Regions from separate parts of the Homo sapiens genome. Here all the other regions are linked to region 1. Evidence: fine-mapped expression QTL. A gene starts in region 1. Each other region holds a variant in brackets. All regions are shown on one strand. Distances are between the middles of the regions.

Region 1 (4,000 bases):
AATCTCGGGATATCTGCGAAATAGGGAGGAGAAGAAAGACGGCTCAGAGGGAGGGAGGATTCCCTCTGGGACCTGAACTGGTCCACTCCCTTCTGACCCTCCACTCTCCACTTCCAACAAAGTAACGAACTCGGTCACTGATGCAGCCAGGCAACCCTGCTCCGGGGGTTCTGAACACGAATGCCGTGTGGGGGTTCCTTAAAGAGACCAGAGACCGGCCCGGCGCGGTGGCTCACGCCTGTAATCCCAGCACTTTGGGAGGCCGAGGCGGGCGGATCACGGGGTCAGGAGATCTAGACCATCCTGGCTAACATGGTGAATCCCCGTCTCTACTAAAAAAAAATATATATATATACACAAAAAAATTAGCCGGGCGTTGTGGCGGGCGGGCGCCTGTAGTCCCAGCTACTCGGGAGGCTGAGGCAGGAGAATGGCGTGAACCCGGGAGGCGGAGCTCGCAGTGAGCTGAGATCGCGCCACTGCACTCCAGCCTGTGTGACAGAGGTAGACACCGTCTCAAAAAAAAAAAAAAAAAGAGAGAGAGAGAGCGGGAGACCAGAGACCTCGCGGCCTCACTGTACACATCTCGCTTACAAGAAACTTAAAAGAGGCGGGGCGCAGTGGCTCACGCCTGTAATCCCAGCACTTTGGGAGGCGGAGACGGGGAGGCAAGATTGCTTGAGTCCAGGAGATCCAGATCCAGACCAGCAACACAGAGATTTTTTTTTTTTTTTGAGACGTAGTCTCACTCTGTCGCCCAGGCTGGAGTGCAGTGGCGCGATCTCGGCTCACTGCAACCTCCGCCTCCCGGGTTTAAGAGATTGTCCTGCCTCAGCTTCCTGAGTAGCTGGGATTACAGGCATGCGCAACCACGCCTGGCTAATTTGTATTTTTAGTGGAGGCGAGGTTTCTCCATGTTGGCCAGGCTGGTCTCAAACCCTTGACCTCAGGTGATCTGCCTGCCTCAGCCTCCCAAAGTGCTGGGATTACAGGAGTGAACCCCCAAGCCCGGCTTGACATCCGTCTCTTTAAAAAACAACAACAACAAAGTGTGAGAAGTGTGAAAGACAGAACGTTAAAAAAAAAAAAAGGCTAAAAAAGAATTAAAGATTTAAATATTTGTATTAAAAATTTAAAAAATATACATTAGCCAGGCATGGTAGTGTGGCCTGTGGTCCCATCTACTTGGGAGGCTGACGCGGGAGGATTGCTTGGGCCTGGGAGGTAGAGGCTGCAGTGAGAAGTGATTGCGCCACTGCACTCCAACCTGGGTGACAGAGCAAACCCTGTCTCGAATAATAAGAAGAAGAAGAAAGAAACTCATAAGAAAGGCTATGCAATTGCTACCGCGCTATAACTTCCAGGCACTTCGTGGGGCGAAAATAAATGGGAAAACTACAGCTCCCATGAGGCGAAGGGGCCACGATGCCCGCGGAAGTTATTTTTCCCCCGGCCGGCAGGGAGTTGTAGTTATCTTTGAAAGCCTTCTCTCTCTTTTGGCATAGGCGGGAAATGTGGCGTCAAGAGGCTGGGATTCCGAGAAAGAAGCGAGGCTTTCACGAAAATGCGAGCGGCTTCGGCAAGGGGCGGGGCCGCTGGACGTGGATGAAAGCTACAGAGCCAGCGTGGACCAATCAGACCTCTTTGGGGCGGGGCCTCTGTGGATAAGTGGGCGTGGTCTAGGGGGGAAGTCACCAAGAACGCACCGGAGGTCCTTGCCCGCCCTGGAAAACGCCCTCTGCGGTGAAGGAGAGGTGAGAGGCCAGGGTTCCCATACTCTTGGGTCCTAGGGAGGATGGGGGCCAGAGGGCTGGAAAACTGGGTCCCGGAGGAGGATGCACTGGGTGCCAGTACTTTAGGTCCTGGGAAAAGAGGAGGCTGGGACCCTGGACTCTTGGGTCTGGGGGAGGAGGCGGCCGAGATCCCGGATTCCTGAGTGTGAGAGAGGAGCGTGTTGGGAGCCAGGACCCCTGGGTCTGAGGGCCCAGACTCCTGTGTCGGAGGAAGGGAAGGCCGGAGGCCTGGAATCCTGGGGCCTGGGTAACAAAATGCTTGTGTCTTGATTCTTGGAAGTGGGGGCGGCGCTGGGGGCCCGAACTCCTGGTTCCAGGGGAGGAAGAGGCTTGGGACAGACATTATGCATTATCCAGCCCTCCATCCCCCACAGACCACACTGCCATGCCTCCCTCTGGGCCCCGAGGAACCCTCCTTCTGTTGCCGCTGCTGCTGCTGCTCCTGCTTCGCGCCGTGCTGGCTGTCCCCCTGGAGCGAGGGGCGCCCAACAAGGAGGAGACCCCTGCGACTGAGAGTCCCGTGAGTGGCCCTGCCCTGCTATCCAGCCAGGTGTTTGCAGTGGTACTACAGCTCCTGCAGACCCCGGTGCCCGTAGGGCGGATGCTCCAGTGACTTCCTGGCCCTACAGTTGTAGCTTGTTTTTTGCCCACCATTCCTCCCAGCAGCAGGGGTTTGACTTGGTGAAAAACTGGAGGTCCCTGACTCTGAGGTGTGGAAAATCTGCATCACGCCCCAACTAAACGTCTGTTTTTTTAAGATTCTCTCCACCCAAGAAGGAATTTGAAAACAAACAAACAAAACTACATTTCCCAGTAGCACCATGTTGCTAGTTCCCAGTAGCAGTTGATGTTGGCTAGCTGGGGTATTCTGACTTCATGGTGCTCTTGGGAGTTGTAGTTTAAATTACAGAAGGGCGGGTGAACTGCTTGTTTATTAATTCCTACATGTGTTTATCAAACCCAATAAAAGCTTTGGTCTTAAGGGATTTGGAACTTTGGAGATCCTGAAGGTCAGTGAGTGTCTTGTGGTCCGAATCTTCCTATAGCTCCCCATAAGGATAGGCTGGTCAGGCCAGGCGCAGTGGCTCATGCCTGTAATCCTAGCACTTTGGGAGGCCGAGACAGGCGGATCACTTGAGGTCAGGAGTTCAAGACCAGCCTGGCCAACATGGCAAAACCCCATCTCTACCAAAAATGCAGAAATTAGCTGGGCGTGGTGGCTCACGCCTATAATCCCAGCTACTCTGGGAGGCTGAGGCACGAATTCTCGTGCTGGAACCAAGAGAGGTGGAGGTTGCAGTGAGCCAAGGTCACGCCATTGCACTCCAGCCTGGGCAACAGAGCTGAGACTCTGTTTTCTGAGACTGTCTCAAAAAACAAAGAATGGGCTAGTCATTACCCCCTGGAACGGATCATTGCATGTTCCTGGTCCCCACGCTGCAAGTTAGGCCTCTATTCTGTGAAATCCTTGCAGACCCAGGAAGGCTTTGTTGAGTCCCATTTCTTTTCTTCCATTCCACATGTTTCCTGAGCACCTTCTATGAGCCGGGCATAGTGTTGCCTATGTGTTGCATAGTTGTTAGGGCCCAGCCATGTGCATGCCCCATGCCCATGGACTATCCCTGCTCACTGGGAGATGGAAGACAAAGGGCAGGGCTCTATGAGAGTGAACACCAGGGGTGACAGTCAGGGAGGAAGGGAGGCGTGAGTTGAGTTCTTTCTTTCTTTCTCGCTCTGTCACCAGGCTGGAGTGCAGTGGTGCAATCTTGGCTCACTGCAACCTCTGCCTCCCAGGTTCAGGTGATTCTCCTGCCTCAGCCTCCCGAGTAGCTGGGACTACAGGCGCACACCACCACGCCCATCTAATTTTTGTATTTTTAGTAGAGACGGAGTTTCACCATGTTGGCCAGGATGGTCTCGATCTCTTGACCTCTTGATCTGCCTGCCTCGGCCTCCCAAAGTGGTGGGATTACAGGCATGAGCCACCTCATTTTTTCTTTTCCTTTTTCTTTTTTTTTTTTTTTTTTATTTTTGCTGTGTCACCCAAGCTGGAGTGCAGTGGTGCAATCACTGCAATCTCCATCTCCCAGACTCAAGCGATCCTCCTGCCTCAGCCTCTGGAGTAGCTGGGACTGCAGGCATGTGCCACCATGCCTAGCTAATTTTTTTTGTATTTTTGATAGAGACAGGGTGTCATTATACTGCCC
Region 2 (4,146 bases), 22 kb before region 1:
CGTCTTCCCAGATGCTGGCGTTACCGCTAGACCAAGGAGCCCTTCTGCTGGCCCTGTCCGGGCATAACAGAAGCCTCGCACTCTTGTCTTGTGGTCACTTCTCACTATGTCTCCTCAGCTCCTATCTCTGTATGGCCTGGTTTTTCCTAGGTTATGATTATAGAGCGAGGATTATTATAATATTGGGATAAAGAGTAATTGCTACAAACTAATGATTAATGATATTCATATATAATCATATCTAAGATCTATATCTGGTATAATTATTCTTGTTTTATATTTTATTATACTGGAACAGCTCATGTCCTCGGTCTCTTGCCTCGGCACCTGGGTGTCTTGCCGCCCACATAACAGCTGGTGGGTTTTATAGTTTTTTTTGTTGCTTTTTTTGAGACTGAGTCTCGCTCTGTTGCCCAGGCTGAAGTGCAGTGGTGCAATCTCAGCTCACCACAACCTCTGCCTCCCAGGTTCAAGTGATTCTCCTGCTTCAGCCTCCCGAGTAGCTGGGACTAGAGGTGTGCGCCACCACGCCTGGCTAATTTTTGTATTTTTAGTAGAGACAGGGTTTCACTATGTTGGCCAGGCTGGTCTCAAACTCCTGACCTTGTGATCCACCTGCCTTGGCCTCCCAAAATGCTGAGATAACAGGCGTGAGCCAATGCACCCGGCCTATGTATTTTTGTTTGTTTGTTTGAGATGGAGTCTCGCTGTGTCACCCAGGCTGGAATGCGGTGGCACGATCTCTGCTTACTGCAACCTCCGCCTCCTGGGTTCAAGCGATTCTCCTGTCTTAGTCTCCTGAGTAGCTGGGATTACAGGCACACTCCACCATGCCTGGCTAATTTTTGTATTTTTAGTAGAGACGGGGTTTCACTACGTTGATCAGGCTGGTCTCGAACTCCTGACCTCATGATCCACCCGCCTTGGCCTCCCAAAGTGCTGGGATTACAGGCGTGAGCCACCGCACCCAGACCCGGCCTGTAGTTTTTCTTTGACATCTGCCTAAATTGTATTAAACTTGGGACAATTATCACCACCCCCCCAAGGGAGCTGGAGAATTGAGTCACGGATCCCTAAAAGGAGGCAGAATTGTCTGTGCCTTGCTGGACCATTAAGGCTCAATCTCTACAGGCCTTTACATTCTCCTCCGTTGCTTTGATACCAGTGGGTATCGAGGTCCCCAAGCCCGGGTGGGACCTCCCCCTCAGCCAGTGTTCAGGCTCTTGACACAGTCATGAAAATGAATTCAAGGACGAGTTGGAAAAGAGTGAAAATACAGGATTTATTGCAAAGGGGAAAGTCCACACTCATGAAAGGGGACTCGAGAGAATCACGTGCAAGGGGGGTTGAGGCTGCTACCGTTATGGGTTTTTTGTTTGTTTGTTTGTTTTTTAAAGATGGAGTCTTGTTCTGTCCAGCCCAGGCTGGAGTGTAGTGACACGATCTCAGCTCACTGCAACCTCCACCTCCTGGGTTCAAACAATTCTCCTACCTTAGCTTCCCAAGCAGCTGGGACTGCAGGCGCCACCACACCTGGCTAATTTTTTGTATTTTTAGTAGAGACAGGGTTTCTCCATGTTGGCCAGGCTGGTCTCAAAGTCCTGACCTCAAGTGATCCACCTGCCTCAGCCTCTCAAAGTGCTGGGATTACAGACGTGAGCCACCACGCTGGCCCTTTTTGGATTTTTTTAACCAAGGGGTAAAATACTCATGAGCATTCCTGGAAAAAGATGGAGATTTCTCAGAACTGTGGTGCCACCCATCTTTACACCAAATATGGGTGTTCCTGGGACCGTCATGATGCTGGTGGGTGTGTGACTGTGTTGATGAACATATAATGAGGTCCTACGTGAAACCGAGGTCAGACCCAGTGCCATATTGGGTCTAGTCGGACTTAGCCTACTTGGCCCACGCCCTGGTTTTTCAGGATCTTATCAGCCCATAGCTTCTGTAGCTATTTCAAGTTTCCTGTTGCTGGTCTGGTCTTGTGAAACTGCTGCCTGGAATTTTCTAATCTCCTGCAACCACCCTGTATGATTGCTGTTGCAGCCTGATTTTACATTTATAAGCCCTGTGTCCATAGGCCTAGTTTCCTTATCTGTAAGCTGACTAACAATTGTACATATCTTATGGGATTGTAAGGCCCCAAAGGAGTTAAAACAATGCTCATGAAATAAATGCTATAATACGGTAATTATTCTATATACCGTTATTCTTTTTTTTTTTTTTTTTTTTTTCCTGATACGGAGTCTCACTCTGCTGCCCAGGCTGGGGTGCAGTGGTGGGCTCTCGGCTCACTGCAACCTCCAC[T/C]TCCCAGGTTAAAACAATTCTCCTGGATCAGCCTCCCAAGAAGCTGGGACTACAGGTGTGCGCCACCACTTCCAGCTAATTTTTTTTTTTTTTATGGAGTTTCACTCTTGTTACACAGGCTGGAGTGCAATGGCACGATCTCAGCACACCAGCAACCTCCGCCTCCTGGGTTCAAGCGATTCTCCTGCCTCAGCCTCCTGAGCAGTTGGGATTACAGGCGTGAGCCATCACGCCCAGCTAAGTTTTGTATTTTTAGTAGAGAAGGAGTTTCACCATGTTGGTGGTCAGGAGTTTGAGACTCCTGACCTCATGATCCGCCCACCTCAGTCTCCCAAAATGCTGGGATTATGGGCATGAGCCACTATGCCCACCTCTACCTCTAATTTTTAATTTTTTTTTTTTTTTTTGAGACCGAGTCTCTCTGTGTCACCCAGGCTGGAGTGCAGTGGCGTGATCTCGGCTCACTACAACCCCCTGGGTTCAAGCAATTCTCCTGCCTCGGCCTCCCTAGTACCTGGGATTATATGCGTGCGCTACCACGCAGGGCTAATTTTTGTATTAATCTACCTCTAGACCTTCACAGAATGCAGGCTCCTCTCATCCTCCTAACCTAATGGCCTTTCATTAGCTTTACAAAAGCAGCTTAGTTAAACTAGAAATCCTAGCACTTTGGGTGGCCGAGGTAGATGGATCACTTGAGGTCAGGTTTTTGTTTGTTTGTTTGTTTTGTTTGTTTATTTTGAGGCAGAGTCTTGCTCTGTCGCCCAGGCTGGAGTGCAATGGCAGGATCTTGGCTCCCTGCAACCTCCGCCTCCCGAGTTCAAGTGATTCTCCTGCCTCAGTCTCCTGAATAGTTGGGATTATAGGGGCCCGCCACCACACAGGGCTAATTTTTGTATTTTTAGTAGAGACGGGGTTTCACCTTGTTGGTCAGGCTGATCTCTAACTCGAGGTCAGGAGTTTGAGACCCCCACTCCTGCCATATAATCCTTTCATTTCCCCAAGGCAACCAAGCCTAATTCCACCTAATTAAAAACCTTTGTATGAGTGCTACCTGCTGCCTGAGGATCCCAACCCTGAGGCCTCTTGCTCAGCTAGTTGCTCCTGATTCTTCAGATGTAGTGTGAAAATTCCTTTTTTTGGTGGGGGGATAGAGTCGCATTCTGTTGCCCAGGCTGGAGTGCAGTGGCACGATCGGGTCACTGCAACCTCCGCTTCCCAGATTCAAGCAATTCTCGTGCCTCGGCCACCGGAGTAGCTGGGATTACAGGCATGCGCCACCATGCCCAGCTAATTTTTGTATTTTTAGTAGAGACGGGGTTTGCCATATCGGCGAGGCTGGTCTCGAACTCCTGACCTCAAGTGATCCTTCCGCCTCGACCTCCTAAAGTGTTGGGATTCCAGGTGTGAGCCACCGCGCCCGGCATTTTTTTTTTTTTTTTTTTTTTGAGACAGAGTCTAGCTGGAGTGAAGTGGAGCTATCTCAGCTCACTGCAGCCTCCGCCTCCCAGATTCAAGTGTTTCTTCTGCCTCAGTCTCCTGAATAGCTGGGATTACAGGTGCCTGCCACCACGCCCAGCTAATTTTTGTACTTTTAGTAGAGACGGGGTTTCACATGTTGGCCAGGCTGGTCTCGATCTCCTGACTTCAGGTGATGCACCAGCTTCAGCCTGCCAAAGTGTTGGGATTACAGGCGTGAGCCACCTTGCCCGGTCAGTGTTGGTTATTAAGGTGGTGCAAAAGAAGGCATGTCGGGGCCCTTCCTCCAAATGAGGAGGCACAGAAGCTGGCAAGGGTATGGTATTTTATTGAGTTATTCAACAGCCAGCTTCTAAT
Region 3 (4,146 bases), 20 kb after region 1:
GAAAGTGTACGACCCAAAGAATGAGGAGGACGACATGCGGGAGATGGAGGAGGAGCGACTGCGCATGCGGGAGCATGTGATGAAGAATGTGAGGTGGGGGCCAGGCGGGGGAGAGGACGGGCCCCCAGCTCTGTCACTCACCCTTATCTGGCTCCCCAGGTGGACACCAACCAGGACCGCCTCGTGACCCTGGAGGAGTTCCTCGCATCCACTCAGAGGAAGGAGTTTGGGGACACCGGGGAGGGCTGGGAGGTGAGAACATGGGGGATACTCGGGGTCCTGAACCTCTCTCTCTTCTAGCCATGACCTTTCTTTCAGAATCTTAGGCCCCTTCTCTTTCTCTCTGGGTCCCCGTCCATTCTCCTGGGTCACTGCATCTCTATCTCTGGGTCTCTGTTTTCCCCTGTCTCTAGGACTCTTATTTATTTATTTATTTATTTATTTATTTATTTATTTATTCTGAGACGGAGTCTCACTCCATCGCCCAGGCTGCAGTGCAGTGGCACGATCTCGGCTCACTGCAGCCTCCACCTCCCAGGTTCAAGCAATTCTCCTGGCTCATCCTCTTGAGTAGCTGGGATTATAGGTGCGTGCCACCACACCCAGCTGATTTTTGTATTTTTAGTAGAGGCAGGATTTCACCATGTTGGCCAGGCTGGTCTCAAACTCCTGACCTCAGGTTATCCACCCACCTTGGCCTCCCAAAGTGCTGGGATTAGAGGTGTGATTTTTTTTTTTTTTTTTTTTTTTCTGAAACAGGGTCTTGCTCTGTCGCGTAGGCTGGAGCCCAGTGGTGGGATCTCGGCTCACTGCAACCTCCGCCTCTTGGATTCAAGCGATCCTCCCATCTCAGCCTCATGAGTAGCTGGGATTACAGGCGTGAGCCACCATGCCTGGCTAATTTTTGTATTTTTTGTAGAGATGGGGTTTTGCCATATCGGCCAGGCTGCTCTAGAACTGCTGGACTCAAGCGATCCACCTGACCTGGCCTCCCTAAGTGGTGGGATTACAGGCATGCACCACCGCACCACACCTAGCTAATTTTTGTATTTTTTGGTAGAGACAGGGTTTTGCATGTTGGCCAGGCTGCTCTGAAACTCCTGGACTCAAGCTATCCACCCTTCTCAGCCTCCCAAAGTGCTGGGATTACCCAGGCTGGAGTGCAGGGGTGTTATCATGGCCCACTGCAGCCTCAAACTCCTGTCCTCAAGTGATCCTCCTGCCTGAGCCTCCCTATTAGCTGGGACTACAGGCACATGCCAGCATGCCTAGCTAATCTAGCTCATTCTTTTATTTATTTATTAATATTTTTTGAGACAGGGTCTCCTGTCACCCAGGCTGGAGTGCAGTGGTGTAATCATAGTTCACTGCAGCCTTGAATTCCTGGGCTCAGGTGATCCTCCTTCCTTAGCCTCCTGAGTAACTGGGACTACAGGCACATACCACCATGCCCAGCTAATCTAGGTCTCTGTTTTATTTATTTATTTATTTGTTTGTTTATTTTTCAATACAGAGTTTTGCTCTTGTTGCCCAGGCTGTAGTGCAATGGTGCATTCTCAGCTCATTGCAACCTCCACCTCCCAGGTTCAAGCAATTCTCCTGCCTCAGCCTCCTGAGTAGCTGGGATTATATGCATGTACCACCATGCCCTGCTCATTTTGTATTTTTAGTAGAGACGGGGTTTCTCCATGTTGGTCAGGCTCATCTCAAACTACTGACCTCAGGTGAGCCACCCACCTCGGCCTCCGAAAGTGCTGGGATTACAGGTGTGAGCCATGGTGCCTGGCCTATTTCTATATATTTTTCAAGATGCCCAGCCAATTTTCTGTAGAGACAGGGTCTCGCTCCGTTGCCCAGGCTGACCTTGAACTCCTGGCGTCAAGTGATCCTTCCCACTTTCGCCTCCCAAAGTCCTGGGATTACAGGTGGGAGCCATGGTGCCCGGCCTTGTCTCTCGGTCTTTATCCCACTCCCACCTCCCACTTGGGCTTCTTTGCCCACCCACATGGCCCTGGCCTCCCAGCCTCCTCTACACCTCCCCCATTGGCACAACCCTCTCCAA[C/T]ATGGGTGGGCCGAGGTTGGACCTGTGCCCCTGATGGCCCCTGTGCCTGCCCTGCAGACAGTGGAGATGCACCCTGCCTACACCGAGGAAGAGCTGAGGCGCTTTGAAGAGGAGCTGGCTGCCCGGGAGGCAGAGCTGAATGCCAAGGCCCAGCGCCTCAGCCAGGAGACAGAGGCTCTAGGGCGGTCCCAGGGCCGCCTGGAGGCCCAGAAGAGAGAGCTGCAGCAGGTGACAGCGGGGGAAGCTGCTTCCATCCACTGAATCTCTGGCTGCCCGTGTCCGTGTCCCCATGGGTGTCCAGAAGCTGGGAAGGCCTGTGGCCACCATGTTAATCACTGGGGGAGCCTCAAGTATTCACCGCCATCTTGAGTAAGGGCAGACGTTTTCCCGTCTCTGACGGCTCTGTGGCTGCCATGTGAGATAAGGGCATTAAGGCTGTAAGTGAGGAGGGAAAGGCCCAGGAGGGGGAGAAAGGCAGACTCAGCCAGGGATGGGTGAGGGTTTCCCTGTCCCAAAGCAAGACCCAAGCTGTGACTGGAGGGAGAACTGGATCCTTGACTATTATTAAGCCCGACTGTCAATGAAAGAGAGAAACTGAGGCCCACGGAGAAGGGGTTGGCCGTGACCACTTAGCAGGCTGCTGTGAAGTCTCCGTTTGGGGACTGAGGCCTGAGCACTTGCAATGCCAGCATCACACCCTCTTGTCTGTGTGACCCCCCACCTCCCACAGGCTGTGCTGCACATGGAGCAGCGGAAGCAGCAGCAGCAGCAGCAGCAAGGCCACAAGGCCCCGGCTGCCCACCCTGAGGGGCAGCTCAAGTTCCACCCAGACACAGGTGCTGGCCCTAGTCCAGGGAGGAGGGGCTGCAGGGCTGGACCCCTGGGTCTGAGGTTGGAGGGGCTGGGCCTGGACTCCCAGATCTGAGGGAAGAGGGACTGGGGGCCCAGACTCCCAGATCTGAGGGAAGAGGGACTGGGGGTCCGGACTCCTGGGTCTGAGGGAGGAGGGGCTGGGGGCTGGGACCCCTGGGTGTGAGGGAGGAGGGGCTGGGACCCCTGGGTGTGAGTGAGGAGGGGCTGGGGGCTGGACCCCTGGGTGTGAGGGAGGAGGGGCTGGGGGCTGGACCCCTGGGTGTGAGGGAGGAGGGGCTGGGCCTCTGGGGTCCTGGGGGAGGAGGGGTTCGGATGTCCTGTGCCACCATTCCCTCCCTCCATTTCCAGACGATGTACCTGTCCCAGCTCCAGCCGGTGACCAGAAGGAGGTGGACACTTCAGAAAAGAAACTTCTCGAGCGGCTCCCTGAGGTTGAGGTGCCCCAGCATCTGTGATCCTCCGGGACCCCAGCCCTCAGGATTCCTGATGCTCCAAGGCGACTGATGGGCGCTGGATGAAGTGGCACAGTCAGCTTCCCTGGGGGCTGGTGTCATGTTGGGCTCCTGGGGCGGGGGCACGGCCTGGCATTTCACGCATTGCTGCCACCCCAGGTCCACCTGTCTCCACTTTCACAGCCTCCAAGTCTGTGGCTCTTCCCTTCTGTCCTCCGAGGGGCTTGCCTTCTCTCGTGTCCAGTGAGGTGCTCAGTGATCGGCTTAACTTAGAGAAGCCCGCCCCCTCCCCTTCTCCGTCTGTCCCAAGAGGGTCTGCTCTGAGCCTGCGTTCCTAGGTGGCTCGGCCTCAGCTGCCTGGGTTGTGGCCGCCCTAGCATCCTGTATGCCCACAGCTACTGGAATCCCCGCTGCTGCTCCGGGCCAAGCTTCTGGTTGATTAATGAGGGCATGGGGTGGTCCCTCAAGACCTTCCCCTACCTTTTGTGGAACCAGTGATGCCTCAAAGACAGTGTCCCCTCCACAGCTGGGTGCCAGGGGCAGGGGATCCTCAGTATAGCCGGTGAACCCTGATACCAGGAGCCTGGGCCTCCCTGAACCCCTGGCTTCCAGCCATCTCATCGCCAGCCTCCTCCTGGACCTCTTGGCCCCCAGCCCCTTCCCCACACAGCCCCAGAAGGGTCCCAGAGCTGACCCCACTCCAGGACCTAGGCCCAGCCCCTCAGCCTCATCTGGAGCCCCTGAAGACCAGTCCCACCC

Evidence for each region. PIP is the estimated chance that this variant, and not a neighbour inherited with it, causes the effect. A credible set is the group of variants that fine-mapping cannot tell apart.
Region 2: its variant is the best candidate, but not a certain one, in a credible set for the expression of NUCB1 in whole blood (TOPMed, PIP 0.64).
Region 3: its variant is the best candidate, but not a certain one, in a credible set for the expression of NUCB1 in whole blood (INTERVAL, PIP 0.72).

What each region holds. Positions count from the first base shown.
Region 1 is chr19:48,898,619-48,902,618 of GRCh38, forward strand. NUCB1 (nucleobindin 1) reads left to right here and starts at 1,694. Exons shown (of 13, transcript NM_006184.6): 1 at 1,694-1,754; 2 at 2,168-2,313. The coding sequence starts at 2,179. It overlaps TULP2 (TUB like protein 2), which reads right to left and starts at 126. Exons shown (of 13, transcript NM_003323.3): 1 at 1-126. RefSeq lists an enhancer at 1-336 and a cis regulatory region at 1-870.
Region 2 is chr19:48,876,870-48,881,015 of GRCh38, forward strand. It overlaps TULP2 (TUB like protein 2), which reads right to left. Exons shown (of 13, transcript NM_003323.3): 13 at 4,098-4,146. The coding sequence ends at 4,142. Among named protein-coding and RNA genes, the nearest start is that of PPP1R15A, 6.5 kb to the left of the region's middle. RefSeq lists enhancers at 1-117, 2,669-3,381 and cis regulatory regions at 1,099-2,059, 1,616-2,228. The variant T/C (reference allele first, on the strand shown) is at 2,311.
Region 3 is chr19:48,919,035-48,923,180 of GRCh38, forward strand. NUCB1 (nucleobindin 1) reads left to right here. Exons shown (of 13, transcript NM_006184.6): 9 at 1-88; 10 at 160-252; 11 at 2,120-2,290; 12 at 2,793-2,898; 13 at 3,284-4,146. The coding sequence ends at 3,390. Among named protein-coding and RNA genes, the nearest start is that of NUCB1-AS1, 2.2 kb to the left of the region's middle. RefSeq lists enhancers at 56-555, 3,702-4,146. The variant C/T (reference allele first, on the strand shown) is at 2,063.